Linked DNA regions of Homo sapiens. The protein of the gene in region 1 purifies or fractionates together with the protein of each later gene. This does not show direct contact. Each region holds a gene or a part of one and is shown on either strand. Other genes may lie near its edges.

Region 1 (3,447 bases):
TTAAACTATGTGCACTCAGGGAAAAAGAAAAGGTAAGAATTAATTGTCAGGCAGGACACACTGATGAGCATCTAAGCCAGAGTGAGCAGTTTTCAGCCCCTCATGCCTCACTGATCATGGGCCATTGAGTGTGACTTAAGGGTTTTACTTGACATTGTATCTTTAGAACTTAATGTGAGTCCCCACTTAGTGCACTTTTAAAAATACTGCAAACAGCCGGGCACAGTGGCTCACGCCTATAATCCCAGGCAGATCACTTGAGGTCAGGAGTTCAAGATCAGCCTGGCTAACATGGTAAAACCCCGTCTCTACTAAAAATACCAAAAAAAAATTAGCTGGGTGTGATCTCAACTACTCAGGAGGCTGAGGCAGGAGGATCGCTTGAACCCAGGAGGCGAAGGTTGCATTGAGCTGAGATTGCATCACTGCACTCCAGCCTGGGTGACGGAGCGAGACTCTGTCTCAAAAAAAAACGAAAGAGTTCCCTCTTCACTTTACCCATTCTTTCAAGCCTAAGGACCACAGACAGCCGTTCCACTGCAGAGTACCCCGTGAATGCTTCATCAGCACGACTATAACCCCCTATTCATGGCATACATTGTTGGCAGAGGATTATCTATAAAATAAAGGCTCAAAATTCTTCCAGGCACCAAGATTTTTATTTACCCACCTTCCTGCTTTCTTTTAACATTATAGGCCAAATTATTCTCTTTTTGACCCAGGGTTGTGAAAGGAACCATCTGGTTATAAAGTGGTGGCAGATTTCACGAAATCTGCCTGCATTCATGTTTTTCTGGCCCCTCTCAACCCCTAGCTGTCACTTCTCTGTTCTTTCTCAGTTGCCCCTTAACAGTCTATTCTAACCCCTGTAAAACAGGGACTAAAAGTACTAACCTCATTGTAATGAGGTTTAAGAGAAGGCCCAGCACTAAGCCAGGCTCTCAGGAAAATTCAAACAACAGTTCCTCTTTGCCCTTCAATATAGCCCCTTCTCATCTGTCATGGGCTGAAGAACCACTGGACCTGTAAACCAAGCACACAGGTATAAGTCCACAGACCAGGTGAAGGCCTAGATGGCAAAACACATGGGCTTTGTGACTCCACTACTGACTTCCAGGCTAAGGAAGGACTGACTTAGTGAGCTGTTCCAAGACCACTGAGCTCATGGTTCCCTGTGGCTGGGACCTCCATCATGACCGGGGCTTGAAGAGGGTACTCTGTTCCCGCTGCCACATTTGGAACAGTATGACGGCTGCAGCAGAGGCCAAAAACTAAGTGATCAGCCCCAGAGAGTCGATGGGGGACACTGACAAACCAATCACAAAGTTGGTGCCATTAGCTCTTAGGGAGGAGAGGTGGGGCCTGGGCAAGGACAGCAGCTGGAGGGTGAAACGCAGACCTGGCTCTCAGTAGCGGTAGTGATCCGGCTTGAAGGGGCCATCACAGGACATGCCCAGGTACTGGGCTTGCTTCTCAGTTAGCTTGGTCAACTTCACATTCAGCTTGCCCAGGTGGGCTTCAGCCACTGCCTCATCCAGCTGGGGAGAAACAAAGGAAGACCGGGAATCAGTGCCATTTTCTGGGACCCCTACACGCGTCTGGCTGCCAATAGAGGCAGAAGTGTTCTGTTAGGGTTTCTGCCATGTGTGGTACTCATGTTAACTCTTTCTATCCTCACACCCAGCCTCAGTTAATGTGTTGTTTTGGCTGCCCAGCCCCCCTCAAAAGGGAACCATGCCACACCCTCCCCTACATGTGGCTTGACAGGACCATCAATCACATCTCCTTCCTCATTCTTCAACTCAAGCAGCTAACCAAAATGCTTCTCTGGAATTGATCTATGCACAGGACATATTTTCCATGACAGGCAGAGACAAGGTGCTCCAACCCCACTGGGATTCCTAAACAGGGAAGGGTATCTATCAATCTCAGCTCACCAGTTCCAAGTCTATTTTACAAGTGAAATGAAGATAGATCCGAGAGACAGAAGGACAGAGCCATGATGACACGGAATCCTAGGTTTCCAGTGTTTGGATCCGAGAATAAAGTTCTTTTTTTTGTGACAGAGTCTCATTCGGACGCCCACGCTGGAGTGCAGTGGCACGATCTCGGCTCACTGCAACTTCTACATCCCAGGTTCAAGTGATTCTCCTGCCTCAGCCTCCCGAGGAGCTGGGATTACAGGCGTGCACCACCACGTCCAGCTAACTTTCTGTTTTTAGTAGAGATGGGGTTTCACCATGTTGGTAAGGCTGTTCTTGAACTCCTGACCTCAGGTGTCGAACTCCTGACCTCAGGTGATCTGCCTGCCTCAGCCTCCCAAAGTGCTGGGATTACAGGCGTGAGCCACCGTGCCTGGCAGATTCGAGAATAAAGTTCTTTTTTGGATTAAACTGGTTGCTTTTTTTGATTAAAATGTATCTATAAATTCTTTGATACTCCTTTAAGAATTAGAGCCTAATCCCCACCGCCTCCCCCCACCCCACCGAGTGATTCCTTTCTAATGAATAGAAGAAAGCAGAAGTGATGGTGTGTGACTTTGGACACAAGTTCATAGAGACCCTGTGGCTTCCTCCTTGCTCTCCTCTGGATGACTTACTCTGGGGGAAGCCAGATGCCATCTCCTGAGGATGCATAAGCAGCCCTCTGGAGAGGCCCATGCATGAGGAATTGAGACCTCCTGTCAACAGCGATGTGAAGAGGATCTTCCAGACCCAGTCAAACCTTCAGATGATTGCAGCCCTGGCAGAAATCTTGACCGCAACCTCATGAAAGAGCCTGAGTCAGAAGCAGCCAGCTAAGCTGATCTCAAATTCTTGACCCACAGAAACTGAAATAATAAATATTTATTATTTGAAGCCAGTAAGTCTGGGGGTTAGATTGTTATGCAGCAAGATAACTGATACACTGGTTTGAATAGTGTTTCTATCACTTGTGACCAAAAGGATTCTAATCCACTGCCATCCTCCTTTTATAAAATGAGGAAATCAAGGTTCAGAAACGTGAAATGACGTGTCCACGGTCACCAAGCTAGTGAATGACAGAGCTAGGATTTGAACCCAGGTCTATCTGGCTTCAAAGCCCCAAAATGTGTCTCAAGCATCCCAGCTTATGGCCTCTAGAGCAGCTTTGAAGAGATTATGCAGAAACCGAGGAGGACAGAGGCAAGAGTTAAATACAAGCAAGCCTCTAACTCTCTCATGAGGTAGGCCTCTCCCTACCCCTAAGGGACCCCATCCTGTCCCATGATGGCATGGCGGCCTCTGACCACAGCTCAGCCCACAGCTTTTACATTCCCAAGTGGTTTCACATCTACTGTTTCATTAGAGCCTCCCAAACACCCTTAAGAAGTAGGATGGGTGCGGTTTATCCTTGTATCTTCAGATGAAGCAAAGAGCCTGCAGAAGGTGATGTGCTCAGCAGAGAGGCGGGCAACAGTAGGACCAG
Region 2 (3,653 bases), on another chromosome or scaffold:
TGATCAGTTCTAGACAACGGGAGTAAAATGTTGTGTAAGGGTCTCTTCTGGAGACCATTGCAAAACTGAACTAGAATACAGGAAACCACCACAACCACAATTATAGGGTAGACAGGCCTCAAAATTGTAGCATTCTATAAATAGTCTAGTAAACTAAATCTTGACAAACAAAACTCTACCTGTCACCAACACCCAAGTCCTACAACAGTTCAAGGCAGCCATCTATTGTTCTGAAGCAATAACCATACTGTAGAGGATAAGATGGTTACCCATTAAAGGGGATACTGGTAATAAAGTATATTTTTAAAATTGGAAACAAGAATGACTAAAACCAGACCTGATAATGTAAAGGCTTGAATTATCAAAAAGGGAAGAAAACTATGAATTAAATTAGTACTTTTTTTTTTTTTTGAGACGGAATCTCGCTCTGTCACCCAGGCTGGAGTGCAGTGGCGCGATCTCAGCTCACTGCAAGCTCCGCCTCCCGGCTTCACACCATTCTCCTGCCTCAGCCTCCGGAGTAGCTGGAACTACAGGCGCCCGCCACCAGGCCCAGCTAATTTTTTGTATTTTTAGTAGAGACGGGGTTTCACTGTGTTAGCCAAGATGGTCTCGATCTCCTGACCTCGTGATCCGCCCGCCTCGGCCTCCCAAAGTGCTGGGATTACAGGCGTGAGCCACTGCGCCTGGCAAATTAGTACCATTTTCTCTGCAGCAATAACTGAGCGACATAACAGTAAAGATACACTAAGAATACACTTACTGGTGCTCATAATTAAACATTGTGCTTAATCATGAGGGCTGATGGGTAGGTGAAAGGAGCTAGGATTTACTGTGAAGTAATAACTGCATGCTCACTGTAAATGTTACTAAAAAGATAAGGTAGAGACCATTTCCAGTTGATCCTAGATAGTGGGCCATTTAAGTGTACAACAAAAGCTTATTGGAACTCAACTTCTGGGGTTGACATGACATTTTTGTTATCTTGATTATGGTGGTGGTTTCACAAGTGTAAACATGTCAAGATTATACAATTAAAATATGTGTAGTTTATTGTATATAAATTATGCTCCAAAAGGGCTGTTAGGAAATTTACTGTAACTAATGTAGACATCTTGTTCAACAAGAATCAACAGTTCCCTTGAACACACTCTCATCTTTAGTGAAAGTTTAGAGACTAGCACGTGAAAATGAAACATTCAGCCCGATAGACTCAATTTCTTTGAAACCTGCAAAACAGAAAGTTTGACTGACAAATGGCTCCTCCTTCTGGAAATCTTCATTACTACACAAACAAGCTGAGGACCAACATCTAAAAACAGCTCCAGGCCAGGTGCAGTGGCTCACGCCTGTAATCCCAGCACTTTGGGAAGCCAAGGCAGGTGGATCATTTTGAGGACAGGAGTTTGAGACCAGCCTGGCCAACATAGTGAAACCCCATCTCTATTAAAAATACAAAAATTAACTGGGCGTGGTGGCACACGCCTGTAATCCCAGCTACTTGGGAGACTGAGGCACGAGAATCGCTTGAACCTGGGAGGTGGAGGTTGCAGTAAGCCAAGGTTGCACCACTGCACTGCAGCCTGGCTGACAGAGTGAGACTGTCTCAAAAAAATAAAAATAAAAATAGCCAGGTGCGGTGGCTCACGCCCATAATCCCAGCACTTTGGGAGGCCAAGGCGGGCAGATCATCTAAGGTCAGGAGTTTGAGACCAGCCTGGCCAACATGGTGAAACCCCGTCTCTACTAATAATACAAAAATTATCTGGGCATGATGGCACATGCCTGTAACCCCAGTTACTCGGGAGGCTGAGGCAGGAGAATCACTTGAACCTAGGTGGTGGAGGTTGCAGTGAGCCGAGATCACATCATTGCACTCCAGCCTGGGCAACAAGAGTGAAACTCAGTCTCCAATAAAAATAAAAAATAAATAAATAAATAAAAACAGCTCCAGATCTACAACTGGCTTGTTCAATTTGGTTTTAAAGTCAGTAAAATCCATCCCTTCCAAGTGCTCAATGTATTTCAACAAGTGTATGCAGTAAGCACCACCACAATCAAGTCACAGAGCAATTCTTGGCTGGGTGTGGTGGCTCACGCTTATAATCCCAGCACTTTGGGAGGCCGAGGCGGGCAGATCACTTGAGCTCAGGAGTTTGAGATCAGCCTGCACAACACAGCAAAACTCCGTCCCTACAAATAATACAAAAATTAGCCAAGCGTGGTGGTGTGCGCCTGTAGTCCCAGCTACTCGGGAGGGTGAGGCAGGAGGATAGCCTGGGCCTGGGAGGTGGAGGGTGCAGTGAGCTGAGATCGTGCCAGTGACCTCCAGTGACAGAGTGAGACTCTGTCTCAAAAAAACAATTTCCTTGCTTTACTTATTTATAAATATGAAATGTTTCATAACTTACATGTCAGCCTTGCACAGGGCCCATGCTAATCTTCTCTGTATGGTTCCAATTTTAGTACCTGTGCTGCCAAAGCAAACACAAGTCCTAGAACATTCCTATCATTCCCAAAAGTTCCCTTGTGCCCCTCTGAAGTGAAGTACCTTCTTCTCTACCTCCTCATTTTTATTCAATAGTATTACCTTTTCCAGAAAGACAAAGAAGTGGAATCACATAACATGCAGCCTTTTGTATCTGGCTTCTTTCACAACTAGCTTTTTAAAGAAGTATCTTTGAATGGACAGTCAGGTCAGGTAGGTGCTGACTCCAAAATGAGTTCCAAAAGACCAGTTCTCTAAGTCCACCGTAGAGGACACAGGGACAGCACTTACGGGAGTGGGATGGTGATAACCACATCATTCAGTTCTAAATTATCTTCTTGTAGCTCATATTCTATGTTGACATCACAGCCATTTCCACTCTCCGAGGGCCAGCAATTAACTGAGGAGAAAGCAAAGCAGTCATACTAGAATATTAGAAAAAGATGGCTGGGTGCAGTGGCTCATGCCTGTAACCCCAGCGCTTTAGAGGACCAAGGTGGTAGGATCGAGGTGGGAGGATTGGTTGAGGCCATGAGTTCAAGACCAGCCTAGGCAACAAAGTGAGACTCCACCTATACCAAAAAAAAAAAAAAAAAAAGCCAGGCGTGGTGGCACTTCCCTGTTCTCCTAGCTACTCAGGAGGCTGAGGTGGGAGATCAGCTGAACCCAGGAGTTCAAGGTTGTAATGAGCCATGATCACACCACTGCACTCCAGCCTGGGTGACAGAGGGAGTTTGTGTCTTTTAAAAAAAGTTAGCTGGATGTGGTGGCATGTGCCTATAGTCCTAGTCCCAGCTACTAAAGAGGCTGAGGCAGGAGGATGGCTTGAGTCCAGGAGTTTGATGCTGCAGTGAGCTATGATTGCCCCACTGCACTCCAGCCTGGGCAACAGAAGAAGACCTTGTCTCTAAAACAATAACAACAACAAAACTACAATGGTTTCAAAATGAAAGCTATTAAAAATGAAAACTAATGATAAAAATATACAAAATGCAGCACCAGGTCCATTTCAAAAGAAAGTCATTTTGTCAGAAAGAACTTTGCTATGGTAATAAAAATAAAAGTGTACCAGCAAGGGCTATTTCTAGTTCTCAATGCAAACTAGCTTAGTGGGACTGGCCAGAGGCACTTACTTGTCAGTGGAATAAAAGATTCCTCTGTGGTT
Region 3 (3,653 bases), on another chromosome or scaffold:
AAAAACATCAATATTAAATGTGTTTTATAGGTTACTGAACAGGCTCTTGTGAAATAAGCTGCCTCTGTTGCCACTAAGAAAGCAACCTTGATCACTCACATTGTCATTGGGATAGAGGACCCGGGAGATGTTCTCGGCCAGGTTTCGGTCCAGCACAGCCTGAATGTAGTCTCCAACATTAACTAGGGGAAAGTTAGAGAAACAATAAATAGAGAAACCAGCCATTGTTGTTGGAAACCTCTTGATCTCACTGGCTCTGTGCTGTGTGTCATGTGGGATTCCTAAAATTCCTAAAAATCCCAAAGGATTTCAACACACCGTCATGCTGGACTTCACATGAGAATTGCTTTAAAAATGCCCTCCCTACTTCCTCCATACAATGCCTGCTTAGTCAGTGAAGTTCAGATCAGAAACTCAAGGCTTTTTTGTTTGTTTCAAGCTCAATTTGGTTCTAACTACCAATCAAAAAGATTAAGCACACGCATAAAGAAACCAAGGCCTGTGCTGTACTCACAGTCTCTGAGGTTAAAGTCATTTGGTGCCCGAGCAGACCAGAGGCGCATGGTGTTGACAGTGTTATTCATGTAGCCGGGCACGGGGGTGTCATATGGCAGAGCCAGGACCACCTGTGGGATTAAACAGAAGCAGCTGCTCATTGTTTCCCAAGTGTGATGACATAGGTTGAACAAGGGGCTGGGAGACTGCAATGGAATTCTATTCCTGGCTCCATTACCAACTTAAATTGTGTGAGGCCTAAATGGAGAAGAGGGTCTCAGGGCTGCAGAGGGTATTAGAGGAACATGTGGTTCCTCCCCGACCTGGTACAATCTAGTGACTGAAACCATCCACACTGATGGTCCTTTACAGTATTTCTATGTTGACTCTCCATGTGCCCTTGCCCTGATATAAATGCAGTGGAATGGAATGATATGGTATTTGTATTCAAAAAAGTTTATCTTTTTTTTTTTTTGAGACGGAGTCTCACTCTGTTGCCCAGGCTGGAGTGCAGTGGTGCAATCTCGGCTCACTGCAAGTTCACACCATTCTCCTGCCTCAGCCTCCCGAGTAGCTGGGACTACAGGTGCCCGCCACCATGCCCGGCTAATTTTTTTGTATTTTTAGTAGAGACGAGGTTTCACCGTGTTAGCCAGGATGGTTTCGATCTCCTGACCTCGTGATCCATCCACCTCGGCCTCCCAAAGTGCTGGGATTACAGGCGTGAGCCACTGCACCCAGCCAAAAAAGTTTATCTTTCATGTTTCAGATAAAGCCATTGCTCTAATAATAATAAAATATGATATGCAAACAAAGTGACATTGTGAATCTGTACCCACCAAAAAATAGCACTTAGAATATGTTTTGCATAGGTTTTTCAGTGATCTGATTTCAAGTATGATGAAAGTAAATGGAATAGGAAATTTATGAAGCTATAACATCTCATATAATATTTAAAATGCTATGCTAGATTTTTAAAGTTGCATAAGGAGTTATTTTAGTGATTCCTACAGTGATCTGCCAAATCAGCTGATAATTAGCTGAGTTGAGTCTAAGAGGTAAGCTTTGGAAAATCTAGCTTGATCTTTGTGACAGTCACTGAAATAGAGAAGAGGAAGATTAACTATGTTTCACAGTGCATCGAAAATTCAAGTGAGAAATCATTCATTTTTATTCCCGGCCTCATCAGAGTCAAGCTCGAAGGAAGGAGAATGACAGAATAATTGAACTGGAGGATGCTGGATCTCATTTAGTGCAACCCACTTATTTTGGACATGAGGGAGCTGAAGCTGAGAGAGAAGTGACTTGCCCAAGATCACAGTCATGGCAGGATTGAAACTTAAACACGCATCTCTTTAATTTGGTCTGCTGAATTGTGAATGAATGAAGCATTATGGCCCATATCAATCACATATACTCAGTCATACTTTCGTGATCACCGCGACCTCAAAGTAATAAATCACCCTCATTTAAATATCTTTCATTAAGAGATAAAAGTCTCTGGACTTTTAAAGCAAGTTGTAATCAATCAGGGAAAGTCATTTGCAGGCTGGGATTGAGTCTCGGTTCAAACAAGAGTTGGACCCTTCTGACCCTTGAAGCATAATTAAGGCAGCCCAAGAAGTGCACAGCTTAGATCTTCTTTCAGAGAACCTCAAAGAGGACTTGCTCCCTCAGAGCTCACACCAAAGCTGCGCTCTCTGGGACACTCCATGTGGCTGGGACACTAGGGCCGAGACTTCTCTAATGGGCAATCTTTAGTGTCAGGCTCCATCAGCCTGGCCACTTGCTCAGAGTGGCACTGTGGTCTGAGGCTCTCCCTGAGAATGCTGCTTCTTTCCCCTTCACTTTTCACAGGTGGCACACCTGTGTCACAGTCTGAAGCCTTCCCACCTCATCCTGCTCCCTCTCCCCTTTGTCTTTCATAGGCATCCCCCAATATGTCACTTGCACTTCTCATTCTCTCTGGTGTCTGTTTCCTAGAGGACCTAAACTGACACGTGACTGTGTCATTTGACTTTATTGGAAGCCATCCCATGCACGCACAGAGCACATCTGGACTCATGCTCTGACATCACTGGGTACCAGTTTGGGGTTAATTCATGTGATGACTTCAATCTATGAGGCTAAGTTGCATGGCTTGGGCCAGCTCACTTATATTACCTCTGCCCCCTAACCTTGCCTCTGTTGGCCCAGAAACACACACTCTCTCTAATTGAATTTCTGGATACATTATGACAGTATCTAGAGGTGTTTTGTAAATGCAAGTTAGCTCAGCAGTGGGACCCACAGTGTAAATAAAATGCTTCCAGGATTGATTGTGTAAACTGCAAACTTTTATTTTTATTTTATTTTATTTTATTTTTTTTGAGACAGAGTCTCACTCTGTTACCCAGGCTGGAGTGCAGCGACATGATCTCAGCTCACTGCAACCTCCACCTCCTAGGTTCAAGCGATTCTCCTGCCTCAGCCTCCCATGTAGCTGGGACTATAGGCATGGGCCACCACTCCTGGCTAATTTTCGTATTTTTAGTACAGATAGGGATTCACCATGTTGGCCAGGCTGGTCTTGAACTCCTGACCTCAGGTGATCTGCCCGCTTCGGCTTCCCAAAGTGCTGGGATTACAGTTGTGAGCCACTGCACCCAGCCAGGAATGACATTTCAAATTATTCAATTTTGCTATCAACACCTTAATATAAAACCAAAGAGGTAAGCATGCTGGTTACTATAGAACTGACAATTTTCTGGCAAAAAAAAAAAAAAAAAAAAAAGAACTGACAATTTTCTGACAAAGCTGGTTGCAAAATGACCCTTATAAAAGTCACTCCTCTCTTGGCCTCAGCTCCTTTGTCTCCAAAATGACTGGGCTGCGCTAAGAGAAGTAACAGATTTATTTACAAAAATATATTCTATTATTCAAAACACGACATGCCCTATACTCAATATCACCACTATATGCTACATAGTCAATGTATTATCTACTGTACTAAATACTATACAAAACGCTGGCTATACGAGCACTCTGAATACTTGAGTGTCAATCCACTTGGTCCCGGTGTTGGTGTGTTCTACTTTTCCATAGAAGTGCACAGGCAGCATGAATTCTGGGCGGGACTTCTCCCAAGGGTTTCCATATCTGAGCCAATCATCTGCTTC

Evidence for each region.
Region 2: the proteins of AHCY (region 1) and ARCN1 fractionate together in Homo sapiens (co-fractionation; one large-scale study listed by BioGRID). This does not show direct contact.
Region 3: the proteins of AHCY (region 1) and PYGL fractionate together in Homo sapiens (co-fractionation; one large-scale study listed by BioGRID). This does not show direct contact.

The regions. Positions count from the first base shown.
Region 1 is NC_000020.11:34,279,628-34,283,074, forward strand, and holds the end of AHCY (adenosylhomocysteinase), read right to left. Parts: intron 1,539-3,447; coding exon 1,407-1,538; 3' UTR 641-1,406; downstream 1-640. UniProt on the Homo sapiens protein: Catalyzes the hydrolysis of S-adenosyl-L-homocysteine to form adenosine and homocysteine. Binds copper ions.
Region 2 is NC_000011.10:118,592,825-118,596,477, reverse strand, and holds part of ARCN1 (coatomer subunit delta), read right to left. Parts: coding exon 3,622-3,653; intron 2,889-3,621; coding exon 2,780-2,888; intron 2,475-2,779; coding exon of another isoform or gene 2,412-2,474; intron 1-2,411. UniProt on the Homo sapiens protein: Component of the coatomer, a cytosolic protein complex that binds to dilysine motifs and reversibly associates with Golgi non-clathrin-coated vesicles, which further mediate biosynthetic protein transport from the ER, via the Golgi up to the trans Golgi network.
Region 3 is NC_000014.9:50,920,442-50,924,094, forward strand, and holds part of PYGL (glycogen phosphorylase, liver form), read right to left. Parts: coding exon 3,528-3,653; intron 627-3,527; coding exon 515-626; intron 183-514; coding exon 100-182; intron 1-99. UniProt on the Homo sapiens protein: Allosteric enzyme that catalyzes the rate-limiting step in glycogen catabolism, the phosphorolytic cleavage of glycogen to produce glucose-1-phosphate, and plays a central role in maintaining cellular and organismal glucose homeostasis.